Linked DNA regions of Homo sapiens: region 2 is linked to region 1. Evidence: fine-mapped expression QTL. A gene starts in region 1. The other region holds a variant in brackets. All regions are shown on one strand. Distances are from middle to middle. Region 1 holds the start of RAMP1 (receptor activity modifying protein 1). Region 2 overlaps RAMP1 (receptor activity modifying protein 1).

The links. PIP is the estimated chance that this variant, and not a neighbour inherited with it, causes the effect.
Region 2: its variant is the best candidate, but not a certain one, in a credible set for the expression of RAMP1 in whole blood (TOPMed, PIP 0.70).

The regions. Positions count from the first base shown.
Region 1 is chr2:237,856,546-237,861,917 of GRCh38, reverse strand. RAMP1 (receptor activity modifying protein 1) reads right to left here and starts at 2,295. Exons shown (of 3, transcript NM_005855.4): 1 at 2,191-2,295. The coding sequence starts at 2,242. RefSeq lists enhancers at 2,908-3,694, 3,695-4,483.
Region 2 is chr2:237,898,533-237,903,904 of GRCh38, reverse strand. All of the region lies in intron 2 of RAMP1 (receptor activity modifying protein 1), which reads right to left. Among named protein-coding and RNA genes, the nearest start is that of RAMP1, 42 kb to the right of the region's middle. RefSeq lists enhancers at 4,743-4,852, 4,933-4,982, 4,950-5,372. The variant C/A (reference allele first, on the strand shown) is at 2,632.

The DNA.
Region 1 (5,372 bases):
AGAAGAGTACACAGGATGCTCAGAGGGAAAAGAACTATATATGGATCCTAAGTTTTTTTTTTTTTTGAGACGGAGTTTCACTCTTATCACCCAGGCTGGAGTGCAGTGGCATGATCTCAGCTCACTGCAACCTCTGCCTTCTGAGTTCAAGCGATTCTCCTGCCTCAGCCTCCCAAGTAGCCGGGATTATAGGTGCCTGCCACCATGCCTGCCTAATTTTTTTTGTATTTTTAGTAGAGACGGGGTTTCACCATGTTGGCCAGGCTGGTCTTGAATTCCTCACCTCAGGCGATTCACCCACCTCAGCCTCCCAAAGTGCTGGGATTACAGGCGTGAGTCACCATGCCTGGCCGGATTATGAGATTCTTAATAACTACCTAAGACAAATAGCTTGATTGTAAAATTGTCACAGATAAGTTCTTAAACCTGTAAACTAGAGTACTTAAAAAAATTCCACATTGCCATTCTTGGTAGCAAAATCTTCATCACCAAGGAGACCTGGCTAGTGCTACAGCTTGGGAAGGAAACAGCCTGTGCTCAGTAATTCTACTAATTACAGCTGGGCTCCAATGACATTAATTTACTGATAACCTCATAAAGTTTTGTTTGTTCTTCCAAGAGATAACATTAGCCAGGCCACTCAAAATAACGTTAAAATTACAGGACTTTGGACTTTCGGCAGAACATGAATAGTTTTCTCGGTAAACAAGGAAGGTCTTTATATGTGATCGTGACATAGTGTTTTATTTACACAAGCTTTAGAGGGTTCAGCCTCTGGACACTAGTAAAGAACGTTTATTTATTTGGTTATTTATGTAAAAAATATTCCACAACCCAGCTCTCTGCCTTGCTAACAAAGAAATGTTTGTTTCTTAGTAAATGAAAACAGTGAAGGCCATGTCAAGCCAAATGGAGAGAATAAAATTACTGCGAGATTCTGCTTTCCACGTAACTTCAGCCAAAACTCTAAAGTGGCAAGATCCGCTTTCAGATTATATTATATCGGCCTCTGAGGATTCTATGCAGATCTGCCACCCCTTGGAGAGGTTTACAAATAGGGAACAGAAATCCATGGCTCCCAAGAAGCCCTGGCCCCTCTCCTCGCTGGGCCACGAACCACTCCCCCAGCTACAACAGCGCCGGTGGTCCCTGCTTGCCCAGTGCCAGCGCCAAAGAGGTCTTGTGCGGCAGGTGCCTCTGACCAACATCACTGTTTCCGGGGAAAGGCCACACATACCAGAAACAACTGCTCCGGCCTTCCCAGGGACACTGGGTTCTCCCACGCCAGTAACCTATTCACAGTTTCCGTTAAAAGGTAGCTAAATACACGGAATAATGCAATAGCCAAAGCGGTTTAGAAGGGGCTTGAGTTAGCATTTTAGGAACACATTACAGACAAGGGAAGTGAACAGCACCGTTTCTTGCCGAGTGTGTGGCCAGTTCCTGTGGCCATGAGGCTGCCGCTAATCTCCACTTCTCCCTCCAAGTGGAAAGCCAAACGTGTTCCACCACTTCACCAAGGGACCCGTCCTTCTTTAAATTTCTATTAGCCAAAAGTGCCAAGTTAACAAGCAAACCAAAAGAAAAAAGAAAAAAAGCGATGGAAGTGTCCCGAAAAGGGCTGGCCTCATTTCTGCAAAAGACGTGATTTGCAAACAAGCAACTGCTGCAGGCGACAGATTGTCAGTGTTGACTAATTTCCATACAAACCGGCTGTGGTTCTGATTCCCGAACACTGCGTCTTCTGCAAGGTGCCCGTCTGCAGGTTTTGCAACGCGGGACGGCCTAGGGAAGGGAGCCTGCGCTGGCAGTCACCGCGGCGCACAGCCTGAGAAACGAGGTGCGGGGCTGGGGAACCCCGCGTCCTGTTTTTCCTTCTGAAAACTAGTTCTCCAGTGTGCAGGGCTGACTCACCCCACGCTTTCCAGAATGCCCGCTCTCCGACGTCCCCAAAGCCGTCCCTTCCCCGGCGAGAAGCGCAACACCGGTCCGCGCCCTCCGCCTCCCCTGTGCCCTGGGGCCTCCCGCCTGGAACCGGGGCGGCCCGCGTTCAAGGGCAGCGGATCTGTGCGCCCGCGGCGCCCGCCCCCACCCGCTCCCACCCGCTCCCACCCGCTCCCCTCCTCTCCCCTAGAGGACACCGGCTGGCCAGGGGAAGGGAGCTCGGCCGGGACCCCTGGACCTACTCACCCAGGAGCAGCCAGAGGCCGCGCCGCGGGAGGCGGCACAGGGCCCGGGCCATGGTGCACAGCGGTGCCGAGTCGAGTCCGCTCGCCACGCGCCCCGCTGAGGACTGAGCCCGCCGCGGCGCGGGCCCGGAGGAGACGCGCCGGGGGCGGGAGCGGGCGCGGGAGCGGTGGGAGGCGGCGGCCGCGCGGCCCGGCCCACTGCGGCTCCCCGCGTGGGTGCCAGGGCCGGGGGCGCCCAGGGCCGGTAAAACTTTGCAGGGGGGCCGCGCGGGCGTCTCCAGGCCCCTCCCGGGGGGCGGCACACTTGGGGTCCCAGGAAGGCCTCCTGAAATGTTCTCCGAGCAAATAAACACTTTTTAAACTAGGGAGGGTCTCCTAGACGACTCAGCGTGAGGGGCACCTTGGTCTCCACCTGGGGATCTTCCCCTCCTCCTCCTCCGAGGTTCTGGGCGTTCCTGCCTGGTGTTTGCCTTGCAAAAGGCTAAGATCTCCCAGCCTTATCTACCTCTCCGCCCAGGTGCAGGCGCTGGGGAGCGTGGGGGGCAAAACTCGCCACCGCGCCTGGCGAGACCCGTAGTAACCCAAAATGGCGCACACTTACCAGGCCCTGGAATGCTGCTCCAGATCTGCAGGATGAGTGGGTGGGCAGAGGCGGGGACAGCACGGCAGGTGAACAGAAGCCGTGGGGCTGGAGGAACAGGGCTCTTTGGGGGGATTGAGATGGCCTGGGAGTCTTGCTGTTGATGGGTAGGTAGCGAGAGCCTGGCAGGAGGTTGTGAGGGCCTGGCCACAGAGTCTTGAGATGAGGTTTGCTTTGGTGGCACTCTGGCAGCTGCATGGAAAACTGATGGGGGATCTTGGGTACATTCGTTTATGTAAAGTGGTGAGAGGAGGGCGCTCTGGAGATGGGCCGGGGAAGCCTGCGGAGGAGCAGGTTTTGGGAGGCACAGGCCTGGCCTCTCGGCATTACTGGTGGCTGGATTTCACTTGCAGTGGTTCCTTCTTGTATTATCCTGTTCCGAGAACTCTTAGCAACAGTAAATTTATACTTGTGCTAAGGAATGCACCACTGCCCTTGGAGGGGGAAGAATCACCACCCTGGTGCTGCGGCCACAGCTGTCTCTTTTGTGGTGGAAGCTGCAAGCGCACAGCATTGCTGAGTGACCATCGTTTTCTCCTAGGAAAGGGAACAGTCTGTGGCTGAGAGGCTGCTGCCACCTGCAGTAAGCTCAGAGAAGGGGAGACAGCTGACAGCGAGGTCATCCACTGGTTCTTCTAACACAGGCTGGGAGGGCACTCAGGGCCAGCATGCCTACCACCTGTGCAGGGGCCCCAAGTGTTCTGAGAGTGAGGGGTGAGATGGTGGGGGAGGGCACACATTCTCTTGACTTGATTAGCCCTTGTTCTTGAACCCTAGGAGATACACCCCATTGGGTGGCCTGGCATCCCTACTTTCTTCATTTAACAGACATTTGTGTCCCTATGTGCAAGACACTGTTAGATCGACAAGCCCTGCCCTTCAATTGGTGAATCTAGGGGGTGACCTCTAAGACTCTCAATAACATGAGCGCCACAATACAGGAGCCACCCGGAACAAGGGACACTCGCCTCAGCTGCAGTGCAAGTAAGGAGACAAAGGATTCTGGACAAAATGCAGCCCAGGCAGTCCTGAGGGCTGGGTGGAGAGAAGGGCACAAGGGAAATGCAGGCCCGAGCACAGGCCTGGCAGCCAGAGGCCGTGCCATGTGAGAGCAGCACAGCTAGTGGGGAAGGGTGGCTGCCAGCACAGCCCTGGGACAGGGCCACCGTACATCCTGCACTAGGCGATGGCCAGTCATAGTGGGGGAGAAGAACCTGCATCTTTCTGCAGCCATCACTCGCCCTCCATATCCAGGGACTCTGGCTTGAGCCACCCTTTCTACTTGTAGCTTGTGGACTTTGGCTGCATGTTTTTGGTTGGCAACTGGGACTCCTCTTTCATCAGGCTCAGCAGGAGTCTTTCTTCCCAACGTTTTCTCTTTGAAGCTTGACTGCAAGGAGGCAAGGCCAGAGGCCCCTGTCACTGCTGTTTTCTCAACACCCCCTAAAGGATACATTTTCCTAAGAAGACAAAGCCTATTTCTCAAGTTCACATGCTTTAGAAATTCACAGTTCTCTGGAGAATGCTGAAGTAAGGCACACACCTAGAGGCATGTTCTCTCCTAATGATTTTCCTGTCTGTACCTTGGGTCTAAGTAAGACATTCCTTAGCAACTACTATGGGCTTCCCGTCTTCAAAAGTTGTAGTCTGATGTATCTGTATTTCTAATTGGTCATAGGTAGCATGGAAAATCATTCCTCTCCCAGGGTACCTCAATCTAGAGGGGCATTAGGTTAAACAATAGAAGAGATTAGAAAATGGCCAAGTGCTTTACTGCATACACAGTAGGGCTAAAGATACAATCAAAGCCTGGTCAACACTGCTAAAAATTCACTATTAACATAAGATTCCTGCTTCCAGCCGAGATGAAGTTACAGGGACTGGACTCACCTTCCCATCTTAAACTAAAAAACTGGACAAAATGTATGAAACAACAGTTGTCACAGTGGACCACAAGAAGTGCAGGGACCCCTGAGAGCAGGGAAACAAATAAGGTGAGTGCTACAACTGCTCACTGCCTGGAGTTTGCAGACCACAGATGGAGAAAGGAAACCCAAAGAGAGTCTGGGGAAGCCAGGCAGTTAACGCTGGCAGGGCATAGTACCAGAGAGGAAAGAGCTGCGCAAAGAATGCGCTTGCGAGATCACAGAGGGTCCCACTTGAGTCTCAGCCCACACATCTAAGGACACTACCCAAGGGAAAAGAGCCTAAGAGCCCACACCCAGCTGGGAATAGTTCCAGTTCCCACCAACCATAGTGGAAAAATCTTGAAATACACAGAACATCAGAGCATAATTAGAAGGGCAAGTCCCTCTCTGTAGTCAGTAAAAATTACAAAGGCTATTCTGGTGCTGCCTAACAAAACTTAAAAGCAAGAACTAACAGGAGCAAATGATTTCCAAGTAGCTATTACATCCCGTAACTTAAAAACAATAAAAGAACAAAGCATCAGAGAGCCATGAGGCAACTCCAGGTGGCAACTCTAAGGTGTAACTGGAGCCCCTGGAGGAAGATGGGTGGGAAATATGTGAAAAACCACTATG
Region 2 (5,372 bases), 42 kb before region 1:
GGCTAACACAGTGAAACCCCAACTCTACCAAAAATACAAAAAATTAGCCGGGCGTGGTGGCGGGTGCCTGTAGTCCCAGCTACTCGGGAGGCTAAGGCAGGAGAATGGCGTGGACCTGGGAGGTGGAGGTTGCAGCGAGCGGAGATCGCACCACTGCACTCCAGCCTGGGTGACAGAGCGAGACTCTGTCTTAAAGAAACAACAACAACAAACATTTGCCAGTGCTGGGATGCACCTGTAGTCCCAGCTAGTTGGGAGGCTTAGGTCAGAGGATCACATGAGCCCAGGGAGGTGGGAGATTGAGGCTGCAGTGAGCTATGTTCCTGCCACTGCACTCCAGCCTGGGCAACAGAATAAGACCCTGTCTCAAAAAAAAAGAAAATAATGCTGAATGCTAGTGAAGGTGTAGGATACTGAGGCAGGCACTCATAGCAATCCTCAGGGAAGATAAACTGGTACAATTTTTCTGAAACACAATTTGGCAATATGTATCAATAATCTCAAACTCACGGATGCCTCTTGACCCCGTAATTGCATTACTGGGAATTATCCTAAATTAATAATGTGAAATATAGATAACAGTGATGTAAGAAGGTGTCCACTGCAGATTTATAATTATGAAAAACAGCAAACAACAGGACAGCGGTCACAGAAATTGTTTATGAGTGGCTCCATTATGTAGCTGTTAAAATTATATTTAGGAAGAAAATTTTAAGATGTGGAAAAACATTTATGTTCTAAAGCTGGGCAGAAGAACAGCTCTCATGCCTGTGATCCTAGCACTTTGGGAGGCTGAGGCAGGAGGATCGCTTGAGGCCAGGAGTTCAAGACCAGCCTGGGCAACCTAGTGAGACCCAGTCTCTCTGCTAAATAAATAAATAAAGTTTTGAAAAGCAGCAGCAGGTTAGACCAGGTGCCATAAACAGCCTGGATTGGGGTAAAATGGTCCACATGGGAGGGGGACACAGCAGAATGTCACAGGAGTGATCCCCACCAGAATGGTAATAACACGAAGGACTTTTCTCTCAACTTTTTTGGGTTTTCTACCTTGAGCATACATACTTTTTATAATTATATTTAACAGCTCATTTTAGCAGGAAGGCTCACAGGAAACTAGATGTTGGCGTCACTGCATCTGCAGCCACCGTGCCTGGTGTCTGGGGCAGCCTGGGTCTTCCCACCAGAGGGCTCTGATGTGCAGGCAGGGCTGGGACCCTCTGGTGACAGCGGCTCATGGGGGAGGCGTGCAGGGCAGACAGGGAGCGGGGACGGGGCGTTGGGCCTCTCCAGTCTCAGTGGCCTCCTGCGTGGAACTGGGGGCCCCGCGGGACCCAACTCTGAGGCAGGAAGGGGCTCTGTGGAAGGGTGAGTGGGGGTGCGGGGTGGGCCCTGGGGGCAGGACCCCACTTTCCTCCTCGCTGTGTTCCCCCCACCCCCTCTGCGGAGACCTCTGCGTCCTCCTGGTCCTCCTGTTCCCTCCTCCATCTCCCTGTCCTTCTGGCCCCTCCTCTTCCTCCTGATCCCTCTCTCCTCCTGGCCTCTCCCTCCTCCTCCCAGCCCCTCCTCCACCCCCTGATCCCTCCCTCCTCCTCCCAGCCCCTCCTCCTCCTCCCGATCCCTCCTTACCCCTCCCTCTTCCACCTCGCCCTTGCTCCAGGCCCCCACCTCATCCTCACTCCAGCCTTGCTCCGGGTGGCAGTGGGGCATCCTCACTCACTGAAGACCCCGGGCCCTTACCAGCCCCCGGAGGAGAGGCATCCCCCGCGAAGTGCTCCTTCTCTCTCGGCCTTGGGCTGCACCTGAGAGTTCCCCATTCTCCCTCCTCCACCTGAAGCCTGGGCTGTTCACTTCTGGCTGTGAACACATGTGACTCAGGGCCCCCATGCCATGCCTATCCCCTGAGTTATCATGGCTCCCCTTTCCCTCAAGGGTGCCCTCCCCTCCTGAGGCCCCATCACTGTGCCCAGGATGGGGCAGAAGTGACTCGTCCTGGTGGATGGGTTATTACAACTTACATACCAGCTTCCACTTTTCTGTAGTGAGTATGTGGGGGCTTGGCATCTATCTACCCCTTCTTCTGCCTCCCCCAGTTTAGTCAGGGGCAGCCATCAAACCCCTCCACCGCCCTCCACTCTGCATGCTGGGCTTAGCTACCACGGGCTCTCCAGGCCACATCCCACACCCTGGCCGCTGCCCAAGCCCACCGTCCACACCTTCCCACCCCTGCTTCACGCCTTCAGTGCTCACCATTACACCTGTCCCAGATTCAGAAGCTTCTGTGTGGGTCACTCAACTGGGTCCCCTCCCTCCTGCTGGCCACATTCTAGCCACAGTGGCCAGTGTTCTGCCTCAGGACCTTTGCACATGCTGTTCCTTTTAACTGGAAAGCTCTTAGCCTCATCTTCACAAGGCCACCCTATGCTCGCCCTTCGCTTAAATGTCACGTCCTCAAAGAGGCCTTTTCTGGATGCTTCAATCATATTTGGCTTCCCCAGCAAAGTGGGGTTTTCCTTCATAGATGGGTGTTACTTTGTGGCTGTCCATGAACTCATGTGATTATTCACCCACTGTTGGTCTCAACAACCAGACTGCAGACACCACCGGGGCAGGGAGGGTAAGAGCAAAAATCCC[C/A]CTTACTCTGGTCACAGTGGCCACCTCCAAGGCAAAGTGAAACAAAGCCTGAAGGAAGACAGCGAGAGAGGGATGTACCCAGGAGACGCAGACAGAAGGTGAGCAGGGGTGTGGGCTTCCCAGCAGACCTGGCCCAGGCCGGTGAGAAGGGCCATCAGTGGGGCTGATGGGGATGCTCCACCCAGGACAGCTGGCACTGCGCCACAGCGTACAGACAGCCCGCAGCTGCCAGGAACGCAAGACACGTGGGAGACTTAAACACACCTCCCAAGGCTAGGTAGATAAACAGTAGCATAAAGTGATTATGAAAAATAATGTTAATAAACCGATGCAGTGACTGTCTGATAAAGGTTCTATTCTACAGAGACTCAGCCGGCTTTTCAAAGGCCCCTGGGTCTGTGTTAGGCGGCAAAAAGAGACTCATCAAATCCCCAGAGTATAAATCATAAGTCAATATTCTCAGGCTACAATACTGAAAACTAAAAATTAGTTTTAAAAAAAGGATAAATTTAAAAAAATGGAATTCCTAGAAATGAAAGATCATTTATATAATTTCGAAGTCACAGGAGAATTTAAAAATTCAATTACAAAATATTAAGAGAACAAGATCGGCAATACTATATGTACAAATGAATGGAATGGGGCAAAAGTGAATTCTGAGAAAAATTAATAGTTATAAATTATTTTATTAAACAAAAATAAATGAAAATAAACAAAATAAGTATCCAAAGCAAGATATTTTTTAAAAAGAACAAAATAAATCTCTCCAAATGGCACATAATTTGTCCATCAATAATTATTAGAAGCAATATAGGCCAGGTGCGGTGGCTCACGCCTGTAATACCACCACTTTGGGAGGCCGAGGTGGGCAGATCACTTGAGCTCAGGAGTTCAAGACCAGCCGGGGCAGCATGGCGAAACCCCATCTCTGCTGAAAATATCAAAATTAGCCAGGCATGGTGGCACACACCTGTAGTCCCAGTTAACTTGAGTGGCTGAGGCACGAGAATGCCGTGAACCCAGGAGGCAGAGGTTGCAGTGAGTCGAGATCGTGCCACTGCACTCCAGCCTGGGCGACAGAGCCAGACACTGTCCTAAACAAACAAACAAATAAACAAAAAACAAAAAACAGAAAAGAAAAAGAAGAAGTATAAGAGATTAATACGTAAAAAAGGTTTGTTAAAAATTGGAAAATCCTCAGTGAATTGGGATACTTTTTGGTTAAATTATAAACTATCAAATATCGACTTAAAAAGGAGGAATTCCAAGAAGAAAAATGGCAAATGTTATTAAAGAATTGCTGTTTCAAAAGGCACTAGATCCCAGGCAGTTCTTTCAAATTCTTTTTTTTTCTTTTTAATTGAGACAGGTTCTCACTATGTTGCTCAGGCTGGTCTCAAACTCCTGGGCTCAAGCGATCCTCCCACCTCGGCCTTCCAAAGTGCTGGGATTACAGGTGTGGGAGGCGTGAGCCACTGCAAATTCTTAAAGTGAAAGAAAAAGATGTGCAGCTTCCCAGTTCATTTAAAAAAGTTAACAAACCCTGATCCCAAGCCTCTTGAGATGGCATGACATGCGTCTCAACGCATGCGCACACGGACGGAACAGATGCCCTTCGCTTCCACCTATAAATAGACACTCAAGTCCCCTACCCAATGCTAACAAACTTCATCTAGCCACATAGCATATTTTATTTAAAGGAGGGCTAATTTCAGGAATGCTTTAAACCTGTTACTACAAAATCACACTTTAATACACCATGGGAAAAAAATGTACCGTCATTTTAATACGCATTGAGAAGGCATTTGAGAAAACTCAATATTCTTTTCTGATTTTAAAAAAGCCACAACCTTGAAAACACAGAAAGAAGCTATTTTCTTCATGTGATAAAAATCTCTCTCTCGGCCAGGTGCAGTGGCTCACGCCTGTAATCTCAGCACTTTGGGAGGCCGAGGCGGGCGGGTCACCTGAGGTCAGGAGTTCGCGACCAGCCTGGGCAACACGGTGAAACCCCATCTCTACTAAAATACAAAAAATTAGCTGGGTGTGGCAGCGTGTGCCTGTAGTCCCAGCTACTCAGGAGGCTGAGGCAGGAGAATTGCTTGAACCCGGGAGGCGGAGGTTGCAGCGAGCGGAGATCATGCCACTGCACTCCAGCATGGGTGACAGAGTGTGACCCAGTCTCAAAGAAAAAAAAAAAATCACTGTCTCAAACCAATAGCATGCACCCCATTTAGGACTGGAACACAGTGGCATTTTCGTGGCAGCCAGCAACAGGCTTATTTCGCATTTAGGCAGCCAGGGCTGGCTTCTCCCTTGTGGTTTCTGCCTTTGGTGTCAGGGCTCACACCCAGGATTCTGTGAATAGCGGGACCTTTCCAAAGCAGGGAGGGGCTGGCCACTTACTGCGCCACTTCCTCTGTTGACAGAGAGCCACGCTGTGGCCTGGCCTGGCGTGCGTCAGGTGTGGAGCAAGCACAGGGCCAGCTTGTCTTTAAGAGGCCTCAGCCCGGGCCCTGGGGATGTGAAAGCCCACGCAGTGTAGCTTCCCACCTACGTCTGCGTGTGTGAGCTCGGGAGCCTGGCTTCCTGTCTCACTTCTGCCCAGCACTGCTGGAGGCAGCAGAGAACTGGGCACCTTTTGTTTTTCTTGACACTGGGGAAATGTATAAGGAAGTCTTGTTAACTGTTTGATGAAAAGCACTTCAGCACACTGTGCTGGCCTGGGAAATGTGTGCTGG